2 separate regions of the Homo sapiens genome follow, and region 1 is linked to region 2. Evidence: fine-mapped expression QTL. A gene starts in region 2. The other region holds a variant in brackets. All regions are shown on one strand. Distances are between the middles of the regions.

What was found. PIP is the estimated chance that this variant, and not a neighbour inherited with it, causes the effect.
Region 1: its variant is the best candidate, but not a certain one, in a credible set for the expression of GDPD3 in whole blood (TOPMed, PIP 0.77).

Annotation. Positions count from the first base shown.
Region 1 is chr16:29,976,371-29,981,734 of GRCh38, reverse strand. TAOK2 (TAO kinase 2) reads right to left here. Exons shown (of 16, transcript NM_016151.4): 2 at 3,831-3,997; 3 at 3,575-3,646; 4 at 3,382-3,483; 5 at 2,891-2,936; 6 at 2,665-2,761; 7 at 2,427-2,540; 8 at 2,227-2,318; 9 at 1-74. The coding sequence starts at 3,962. Among named protein-coding and RNA genes, the nearest start is that of TAOK2, 5.2 kb to the right of the region's middle. RefSeq lists an enhancer at 4,974-5,364. The variant C/T (reference allele first, on the strand shown) is at 3,029.
Region 2 is chr16:30,111,453-30,116,816 of GRCh38, reverse strand. GDPD3 (glycerophosphodiester phosphodiesterase domain containing 3) reads left to right here and starts at 3,280. Exons shown (of 10, transcript NM_024307.3): 1 at 3,280-3,477; 2 at 3,753-3,795; 3 at 4,024-4,159; 4 at 4,249-4,294; 5 at 4,393-4,511; 6 at 4,596-4,685; 7 at 5,296-5,364. The coding sequence starts at 3,339. MAPK3 (mitogen-activated protein kinase 3) reads left to right here. Exons shown (of 9, transcript NM_002746.3): 8 at 27-181; 9 at 2,109-2,712. The coding sequence ends at 149. RefSeq lists a silencer at 3,015-3,309.

The DNA.
Region 1 (5,364 bases), 140 kb after region 2:
GGGGGATTCGTTCTGTGCAATGTGGTATAAGGCACTCATCGCATTCATGTTAAAGAGCGGTGGTTTCCGTTCAGCTACAGAAAAAGGTGAAAGGGAAGAAGGTGAGAGGTGGCAGGGGGTAGAGGACAATGGAATGGAACTGAGACGACTTGGGTTCAAACCCCAATTCCTTGACTTCCTTGCCACATGACCTTGAGAAGTTCCCATCATCCTGTTGCGTCTCAGTTAATTCCTTCCTCTGTAAAATACAACACCCATCCTCTCCACTGCACACGGGTGGAATAGGGGTCAAAGAAAATAACATCCACAAAAGCAGTAACGAAGGCAGAAGGACAGCCATTCAGTTATCACCCCAACTAATATTTCTTAGGTGCCAAAGGGAGCAGATAACTTGATAATTGCTATGGGGAAGATAAAAACAAGAATTAGGCCCCACCCTCAAGGAACCTCCAGTCTAAAAGATTAAATAGGACTGAAAAAATAACATCAAAGTATTAACTGGTATAAGAGGGAAACAGGGAAGTGGCTGGGAAGTTGAGAGTATGCAGTGAGCCTTCAAGCTAGCATATCTTCAGGGAATTCAGAGAAGGGCTTTGTAAAAAGCCCTGAGATTAGAAAGGTAAGTGCAAGCTAAGAGTCGCTAAGAGTCCCTTGTAGCCCAGACAAATGTCATGTTGTTTTGGCCTAAACGGTGATTTTTAAAATTAACTGCCAAAAGTAATAATCAAATAATAATACAAGTTTCCAGTTTCTCCTTAAGAATTAAATCTGGTGAAATGGAGTCTACATTACTGCATAACAATGGTCTGGAGATAAGCATTAGCTGCCCTCTTTCTATGGAAACAGCAATCTCCAGTTTGCCACATCCTTCTCCACACTGCTTCCCTGATATTGACTTAGTATGAGTTGACATTTATAATCAGACTGATATATATTTTTTTCAATAGTAGAGTAATATTTCTCTGTATCCACATCTCTTCCAAAAACTAGAAATAAAATGGACAGATCTAGCTTTTTCTTATACTTGGGTCCGTTTCTTACATTTTTCATCAACTGTCTGGGCCTGGCATCTAATGGTAAATGGAGACTGTGAAGATGGAGGAGAAGGGCTCGTCCAAATCTCTGACCTCGGGCAGAGGACCCAATACGAACCAAGGCAAGGAAGTGGAAGAGTTCATGACACACTCAGAGGGTGGAGCCCATGAAGGAAAGGGCCAGCATTTACGAAGCAAAGCCTCTAGGTTGGTGGGAGGAAGGATGGGGATGGCTTCAGTCTTGAAGGCAACAGGGGGCCACTCATGGCTCCAAACAGGGAGTGAAATGACAGCACTGAGCTTAGGCAGACCTCTCTGGCATCAGTACTTAAGACAGACTGGAAGGGAGAAGAGACTGGAGAGATCACTGCAGGAGGCTGTTGATAAGAGAAACTAACAGCAACTCTTAGGCAACTGTTTTGTGCCTGGCATTGTGTTGGAAGCCTTATAAAGGTTACCTACCTCATTAAAGAATTGTTTCAATAGTGCTGGCTGACAGAGATGAGAACCTTGGCATGGCTTCAAGGCCTTAGGAACTCACTTGGACCTAACTCTCTGGCCTTATCCTTCAATATTCTCTGCATTACATGCTAGGTTCCAAATAACTGAAGCTAGTCCCAGTTCCCCAGGCCTGCACTTACCTCTAGGCCTCTCACATGCTGTTCTCTCTGCCTGGAAAGCTCTTCCCTACATTCTGCAAACAGCTATTATTTATCTTGCAGGTTGGCTTCAATATTCTCCTACAAGGAGGCCTTCTTCAGCCCCTAAACTAGGTCAAGTCCCCTGTTTTACATTTGAACCGCTCCTGTAACTTCTCCACACAGCGTTCATCACATTGAAAGAAAACATGCCTGCCTGGTTTCCCTAAATCAAATGTAAGTTCCATGAGGGCAGGATTTTCATTCACTGCTATCCCTCCAGAATCACAGTCCATGGCACAGCACATGGTGGGCACTAAGAAAAGATTCAGAACCAGGGTAGTGGACAGGAAGAGATGAATGCTACAAAATCTCTAGGCCTAAGAGCTGGCAGAATTTGCCAGCTGCCTGTATTGGGCTCCAGGGTAGAGTCACAACGGACAGGAACTTGGAGGCCTGGGATCCCATCCCTAGGAGAAGGGGGTAGTCCGGAGTCTGGGAACTAACAGGAAAGAATGGAAAAGATGATGAGGGAACAGGGAGGATGTTCTTACCCAGCTCGATGCAGGTTATCCCCAAGGACCAGACGTCCACTTTGCCATCGTACTGCCCCTCATCCATGGCCAGGATCACCTCGGGTGCCATCCTAGGAGAATGGTCAGGAGAGAGAGGCAAATCACCCGCCGAGACCCTGTCACTCCTACTCCCAACATCCCTGGGAGGTCTCTCCACTCACCACCACTCACTCACTCACCAGTATGGGGTGCCCACGAAGGAGTTGGCAGGTGCCATGATGGACGCAGAACCAAAGTCCCCTAGCTTCACTAACCCTGGCTCTGACAGCAGGATGTTTCCAGCCTTCACATCCCTGCCAGAGGCAAAGTACAGGGATGAGACATGTGTCTCAAGAAAGCTAGGCAGGGGCAGCCCAGCTAAGTGACAGGTGGTGCAGATAGCACTCCCCTCCCAGGCACTGCCGGTGCTGCTTGTACCTATGGATCATGTTGTGGGAGTGCAGATATGCCAGGCCCTGAAGCGCCCCGTGGGTCACAGCTGCGATCTCTACCTCCTGAAGGGGTTTCTTGTGCACTGGAGAGTGAGGAAGAACATCAACCCGAGGGAGCGCAAGGGTGGGACTGGAATAAACTCCCCTTAACCCTTCCCTATGGCTCCCCTGCTCTTCTCCCTTCTCCACTTATTGGCCTATCAGTCACTTACCTTCTAGAAGGTCAGAAGCTGAGCCCAGGCAATACTCCATTACCAGCTAAGGAAGAGACAAGGGTCAGAGATCAGAGTCTCCTGGGCAGGGACTCAAAACAGAGCTTCCTTGACTGTCCTGTACTCAAGCTATGTCCC[C/T]GGGGTGATGACAGGGAGGAAGCGCAACTGGAGACAATGAGGGGGTGGTGGGAGAGTTTCTAGAGTCTGGGCCCAAGACATTCACCACTGCCCATCTGAATCCCTTCAAACTCCCATTCAATCTCCACCTTCTCCAGCCCACAGTGACCTGTCCCACCTGCTAACAGCCTGTGTCACTGAGCCAGGCTTTTGCTCAGTGGGTATGTCTGAGGACTAAAGCGGTCAAAAGAGACTTCCTCCTTCCCAAGATCCCACAACAGCACCACGAACAGGGACCACCTAAGAGACTGGACTACGATAAGGACGGGCATGAATAGGAGTAAAGATCAGGCCAGAATCTGGCACCAGCTCACCCAAGCCGTGTGCTCCCTCAGGTAACAGCCCCGGTACTGAATGGTGTTGGGATGCCGGAGCTTCTGTAAGAACCGCACCTCCTTGATGATGTCTTGCCATTTCTAGGGGGTCAGGGTAGGCAGAGGTTACCCAGCTTGCATCTTGAGACAGGAGTCCCCTGTCCCCAACCTGGCTGTATTGCACCTGGCCCACCTCATTGGACTGCTTCCCACTGTAGGACATCTTCTTGATGGCCACCACCTCACTATTCCGGACATCCCGGGCCTAGAGGACCAGACCAGAAGGTGTTGAAGGCCCCATTGAGAGCCGGGCATGGGAAGACTTGCTGGCCCAGCAAGAGAAGGCAGGAAAGACCAGTGTGATGGAGTAGTGTGCAAGGGCTGTTGGGAAGTCCACAGGGATAGGAAGAGTCCCCATCCCTATTACACCCTCCCAAGACCCAACTCACAAAGTATACGGCTCCAAAGCTGCCATGGCCAATTTCCCGGAGGTCAGAGAAGAGCTTTTCTGGGTCATCCTTGAAGAAGAGCTCAGCCACATCTGGGTCCTTCAGGCTCCCGGCCCGGCCCCCAGCTGGCATGGTGGCCCCTGGGGGCCCTGAGAGTGGGGCCTGGCCTGAGGAATGGAAATGGGACCCTTAGAGATCAAGGATTGAGCCTTCAGGGAGAGGAAGGGACCCATCAAGTTTCTGCCATCTCCTCCCCTCATTCCCTGATGAGGAGGAGGCACTGCTGAGGAAGGGGAGGGGGAGATTAGGAACAACATCAAAGCTCCAAAAAATGAAGTTGCCCTGGCAACCAGATCACGCGGGCTGGGTCCCTGGAGTCCCTAAAACTGCTAGGAAGATTCTGGGAAGCTAAGTATCCTCACCACCCCCTTCAGTGCTCAACAAGTTCTCATTTCCCTATAGCCCCTGTATCTCCCCTCAAGGATAAAACATTCTGCTTCCCAGCCAGCACTCCAGAGCCCCAAGTGTCCTGTCCCATAAGTCCTATACCCCAACTGTTTCCAGGCACCTTTCTGTTCCCCTTGGCGCTGAGGCCCCCTCCTCCCTCAACCTCTCACACCCTGGAAGAGAACAGGAAATGGCCAGGCCGGAGGCGGTGGAAATCCGTCCATTGTTAGAAGTGGGTACTGGCCCAGAGGAGCCCGCAAAGTCACTCTCAAAAAAGTCAGGGGGAGATCTAGAATGGGAAGAATAGGGATATAAATGGCATCTGGCTATGAGGGCCTCTCTGTGCTCTGGGCCACCTTACTTGTCCTGTCCAACTGCATAAGCATCACACACAGGTACAGGACATTTGCAGGGTACAAATAACATTTACTGAGTACCTTACGTGCATTATCTCTATTCAGTCCTCACTACAACCTTATGAAGCAAGTACTATGATTTCCCCTATCTTACAGATAAAGAAACAGGCTCAGCAAGGTTAAGTGCCTTGTCCAAAGCTGGTCCTCCATCACTATGATTTCAGAGCAGCCCTTCGAAACAGGCAGGGCAGAATCATGATCACCATTTCCTAGGTGAGGTCACTGAGGCACAGAGAAGAAAAAGGACTTCTCCAAGGTCAGAGAACAGGACCTTCGGCTCCCCGGTTAGGCCTGTATCCATTACTCTCTCAGCTGTCACCCCAAGCTCAGCTCCCCTCTTGCAGGAAGCCTGTCCTGACCACTCCAGCCATTGGGAAGAGCACCTAGGGCACCCAACCAAACACCCGGAGAAAGTTCCTGCAGGATACCAGAACCAAAACCCTCAAGGAGATTCCAAGACAGGCTCCAGCCTAAGCACTTGTCAGAATTTAGGCACAAAGGAGCCTTCAGCAGAGCTGGACTCCTGGGGCAGAGTTCTAGCTACTCAAAAGCACCTAACAATTTTAGCATGTAATTTATTCTGTCATGCATTGTTTCCTGTTGTGTTGTTAATTTTGTCTCAGCCCAACTGGAAGCTGGAGGGCAAGGAGGGAGCCTGACTCTCCAGTGGG
Region 2 (5,364 bases):
GAGCCTTGCTGTCTCTACCACCCCAGCCAGTGGCCGAGGAGCCCTTCACCTTCGCCATGGAGCTGGATGACCTACCTAAGGAGCGGCTGAAGGAGCTCATCTTCCAGGAGACAGCACGCTTCCAGCCCGGAGTGCTGGAGGCCCCCTAGCCCAGACAGACATCTCTGCACCCTGGGGCCTGGTGAGTGTCTCCATGGCCCACACATGGACACCCTGATACTAAATATCTATATCTGTATATCTATATCTATATCTATCTGTACATGCCTCCATACAGCAGCAAGCTTACCCCACACCCATGGTCAATGTGTCTGGTGACAACAGAAGTGCCCAGGGGGCTGGGTGTGGTGGCTCATGCCTGGAATCCCAGCACTTTGGGAGACTGAGACTGAGAGGAGTGGATCACCTGAGGGTCAGGAGTTTGAGACCAGCCTGGCCTGCATGGTGAAATCCCATCTATACTAAAAATACAAAAATTAGCCGGGCACAGTGGGTCACTCTGGTAATCCCAGCACTTTGGGAGGCTGAGGCAAGTGGATCACCTGAGGTCAGGAGTCCGAGACCAGCCTGCCTGGCCAACGTGGTGAAACCCTGTCTCTACTAAAAATACAAAAATTAGCCGGGCACGTAGGCATGCGCTTCTAGTCCCAGCTACTCAGGAGGCTGTGGTGGGAGGACTGCTTGAACCTGGGAGGCGGAGGTTGCACCACTGTACTCCAGCCTGGGCAACAGTGAGACTCTCTCAAAAAAAAAAAAAAAAGGGCTGGGCACAGTGGCTCATGCCTGTAATCCCAGCACTTTGGGAGGCCGAGGTGGGTGGATCACAAGGTCAAGAGTTGAGACCAGCCTGGCCAACATGGTGAAACCCGGTCTCTACTGTAAAGAATACAAAAATGAGCTGGGTGTGGTGGCACATGCCTATAATCCCAGCTACTCAGGAGGCTGAGGCAGGAGAATTGCTTGAACCCAGGAGGCAGAGGTTGCAGTGAGCCGAGATCGCACCACTGCACTCCAGCCTGGACTACAGAGCAAGACTCCATCTCAAAAAAAAAAAAAAAAATGCCCAAGGCTGCCCAGACTGGTGGCCCACCGAGTCCTCCAGCCCCAAATGTCTCTGCCTGTCAACACCTTGCATCCTCCAGCCCCACAAGCCATTCTAATCTCCTTCTAGGAACAGAACTGGCAAAGAGGCAAGAGGTCACTGAGGGCCTCTGTCACCCAGGTGAGGACCTGAGCCAAGCTTCAGCTCTGGGTGTGGCAGAAGCAGGTGGGGCCATGATTGCTTTGGGAGGGGCCCAGCAGCGCCCAGCCTGACCCAGATTGCCAGGCCTCCTCACACCTGCTGCCAGATCAGCAGTTCACATAGCTGTGGGGACCCCACTGGCCTGCCCCCACCCACGCTGCCTCCTTGCCTCCTCCGGTCTCTTCCTGTCTTCAGCCAGGTGTGGCCTGATAGAAAGAAGGCATGCGCACCTGGGCTCAAACTCCAGCTGTGCCACTTAGTAAGTGCTGTGTGATATTGGGCAAGGCACCTCACCTCTCGGCGCCTCAGTTTCCGGAGTCAATCTATTTATCTTTTTTTTTGGTTTTGTTTTTTTGAGACAGTGTCTCGCTCTGTCACCCAGGCTGGAATGCAGTGGTGCAATCATAGCTCACTGCAGCCTCAAAACTCCTGGGTGCAAGGGATCCTCCCAGCTAGCTGGACGAGCCATTGCAACCGGCTAATTTTTTTTTTTTTTTTTTGTGGAGCTGGGGTCTTGCTATGTTGCCCAGGCCAGTCTCAAACTCCTGGGCTCAAGCGATCCACCACCTCAGCTTCTCAAAGTGCTGGGATTATAGGCGTGAGCCACTGTGCCCGGCCGAGACAGTTCTAATAATGAAAGCATAAAGCCCTAAGCATTGTTCTAAGAGGTTTACATGTATTAATTCCTTTAATCTTACAGCAGTACCTCAAGCTAGGTACTATTATTATCTCCATTTACAGATAAGGAAACTGAGACCCAGCCTATCCAGCTGTGAGGGTGAAATGAGAGATGTTGAGGTCAGGGCTCCAGTGGGTCTGCCCGGGGGGTGCTAACGACTCCTCTTCTGCCTGCTTCTCTCTTTAGGACCTGCCTCCTGCCTGCCCCTCTCCCGCCAGACTGTTAGAAAATGGACACTGTGCCCAGCCCGGACCTTGGCAGCCCAGGCCGGGGTGGAGCATGGGCCTGGCCACCTCTCTCCTTTGCTGAGGCCTCCAGCTTCAGGCAGGCCAAGGCCTTCTCCTCCCCACCCGCCCTCCCCACGGGGCCTCGGGACCTCAGGTGGCCCCAGTTCAATCTCCCGCTGCTGCTGCTGCGCCCTTACCTTCCCCAGCGTCCCAGTCTCTGGCAGTTCTGGAATGGAAGGGTTCTGGCTGCCCCAACCTGCTGAAGGGCAGAGGTGGAGGGTGGGGGGCGCTGAGTAGGGACTCAGGGCCATGCCTGCCCCCCTCATCTCATTCAAACCCCACCCTAGTTTCCCTGAAGGAACATTCCTTAGTCTCAAGGGCTAGCATCCCTGAGGAGCCAGGCCGGGCCGAATCCCCTCCCTGTCAAAGCTGTCACTTCGCGTGCCCTCGCTGCTTCTGTGTGTGGTGAGCAGAAGTGGAGCTGGGGGGCGTGGAGAGCCCGGCGCCCCTGCCACCTCCCTGACCCGTCTAATATATAAATATAGAGATGTGTCTATGGCTGACCCTGGCTCTGTCTGTGTTCGCGACGCCCCCGCCCTGCCCCGTGCGGCTCTGAGGACAGACTTGACTTGGGCTTTCAGGGGCCTGGTGCCCTTCACTCCCAGCTGCCCAGGGCTGGGGACGGGGCTCTGGAGAGCTCCAGACTCCTAGAAAGAAGGGGGTCAGTTTTCCCCTTAGTCACTGTCCTGTCCTCTCGCTAATGGCTTCCTGTCTAACTGGCTGGGGGTGATTCGGGGTGACTCAGGAGCACCCTACACACCCCTGGATCCTCTGAAATGGCAAGGGGTAGGCATGTTGGATGCGCTGGCTACAAGTACCAGTGAGAGGGAGAGGTCCTGACAGTCCTGGGTGGTTTTTACTCCCCTCATGTAGCCCAGGACGGGGCTGCTGGGGGCTGGGAAGGGCCTGGGGATATGAGAGCCAGGGCTACTTGCCTCACCTCCTGACACTACCCCAGCTTCAGCCGAACCCTGCAGCCTGGCTCCAAGCCAGCCCAGCGGCAGGCTCAGCAGGTCCCAGGGGCGTGGCAGTGGCCAGTAGTAGAGCCGGCCCACACTGGCTAGGCAGGCAGCACAGTCCCGCGGACGGCTGAGCGTGTGGCTGCAGGAGCTTCTGTGGGAGTACGGTCATGAGCCTTTTGCTGTACTATGCCCTCCCTGCCCTGGGCAGCTATGCCATGCTCTCCATCTTCTTCCTGCGCCGGCCTCATCTGCTGCACACGCCCAGGGCTCCCACCTTCCGCATCCGCCTGGGGGCCCACCGAGGAGGTGAGCCGGGTAGGGGTGAGAACAGGTGCCAAAGTGGACAGCACAGAGGGGTAGGTCCAAGGGGGCATGCTAGAAACGGGGCAGGGACCAAGAGAGAAGGAGAGCGAAGTGGCAGGGCAGGGTGTGGACGAGGAAGAAGATGCTGGCGCAGCCTGGGCTGGCTGGGGAGGTGAGGCCAGAGGGAGGATGGAGCCCAGAGAGGGAATGTGGGTGATGAGGTTGGGCCAGGCCCCTAGACCCCAAGCCCCAGAGGCCCACTCCAGTGCCCCCCACAGGATCTGGAGAGCTGCTGGAGAACACCATGGAGGCCATGGAGAAGTGAGTGTATCTGCCCCTGCCCAGGCTGCCATGTGAGGGTGTGCAGGTCGTGGACTGCATCACAGCAAGGGACGCCATTCACTTCCTAGCTGGGTGACTGGCGCCCCCTGGAGGTGGCCTGCACATCCCGCCACGAACTCCGCTCTCACATTCCCGGCCACCTCCCAGCCACCATGCCCCTCATCCCAGTCCCCTGCCCCTGCCCCCCGCTGACCTTCACCCCCACAGCTCCATGGCCCAGCGCTCGGACCTCCTGGAGCTCGACTGTCAGCTGACACGGGACAGAGTGGTGGTGGTGTCACATGATGAGAACCTGTGCCGCCAGTCGGGCCTAAACAGGGATGTGGGCAGCCTGGACTTCGAGGTGGGCCCTGCCCTGACACCCCAACCCCCACCCTGAGAGTCACCATGCCCAATGCGGGCCTCTAGTGACATCCTTCCTGTCCTCCCCAGGACCTGCCCCTCTACAAGGAGAAGCTGGAGGTTTACTTCTCTCCAGGTGAGAGCAAGGGCTTCGAGCCCTGCCTGGGCCATGCCTGCCTTCCTTGGACCTCCGCCTTGGCTTCCCTCTGACCCCTTTTCCCACACCACCCCCAGGCCACTTTGCTCACGGGTCAGACCGGCGCATGGTTCGTCTGGAGGACCTGTTCCAGAGGTTTCCAAGGACACCCATGAGCGTAGAGATCAAAGGGAAGAACGAAGAGCTCATCCGTGAGGTGGTGCTGCAGGCAGGGCTAGGGCGGCCACCGGGGGCGTGAGAGAGGCCTGGCTCTCCCTTCACCTCCTTCTCCTCCTCCCAGATAGCAGGCTTGGTGAGACGCTATGACCGTAATGAAATCACCATCTGGGCCTCGGAGAAGAGCTCGGTCATGAAGAAATGCAAGGCTGCCGTGAGTCCCCCCACCCCTCCCCCGTCCTCTTCCTCCTCCAGGGGCCCCTCCTCCCCAGAGCTGGAGCCCACCCAGCATGGGGACCCGAGCTAGAGGGGTCTGGGAGAGTTCCCAGTGGCGTGGCGGTGGCAATGAAAAGGGTGTGAACTCAGGCCTCGAACACAGAGCCAAGATGTGACTTTTGTTTTTTTTCTTTTTTGAAACACAGTCTCTCTCTGTCGCCCAGGCTGGAGTGCGGTGGTGCGACCTCGGCTCACTGCAACCTCTGCCTCCTGGGTTCAAGCGATTCTCATGCTTCAGCCTCCCGAGTAGCTGGGATTACAGGTGCACGCCACCACGCCCAGCTAATTTTTGTATTTTTAGTAGAGATGGGGTTTTACCATGTTAGCCAGGCTGGTCTTGAACTCCTGATCTCAGGTGATCCACCTGCCTCAGCCTCCCAAACTGCTGAGGTTACAGGCGTGAGCCACCACACCCAGCCCCAAGATGTGACTTGGATCCTGCAGGTAGTAGGGCCTCTGGAATGCCCACCACGGCTCCCCTGCAGCTCATGCCTCCTCTCTGCTTCCCCAGAGCAGACAGATTCTCATGCCTCTCCTTGCCTCCCCAGAACCCCGAGATGCCCCTGTCCTTCACAATAAGCCGAGGATTCTGGGTGCTGCTTTCCTACTACCTGGGG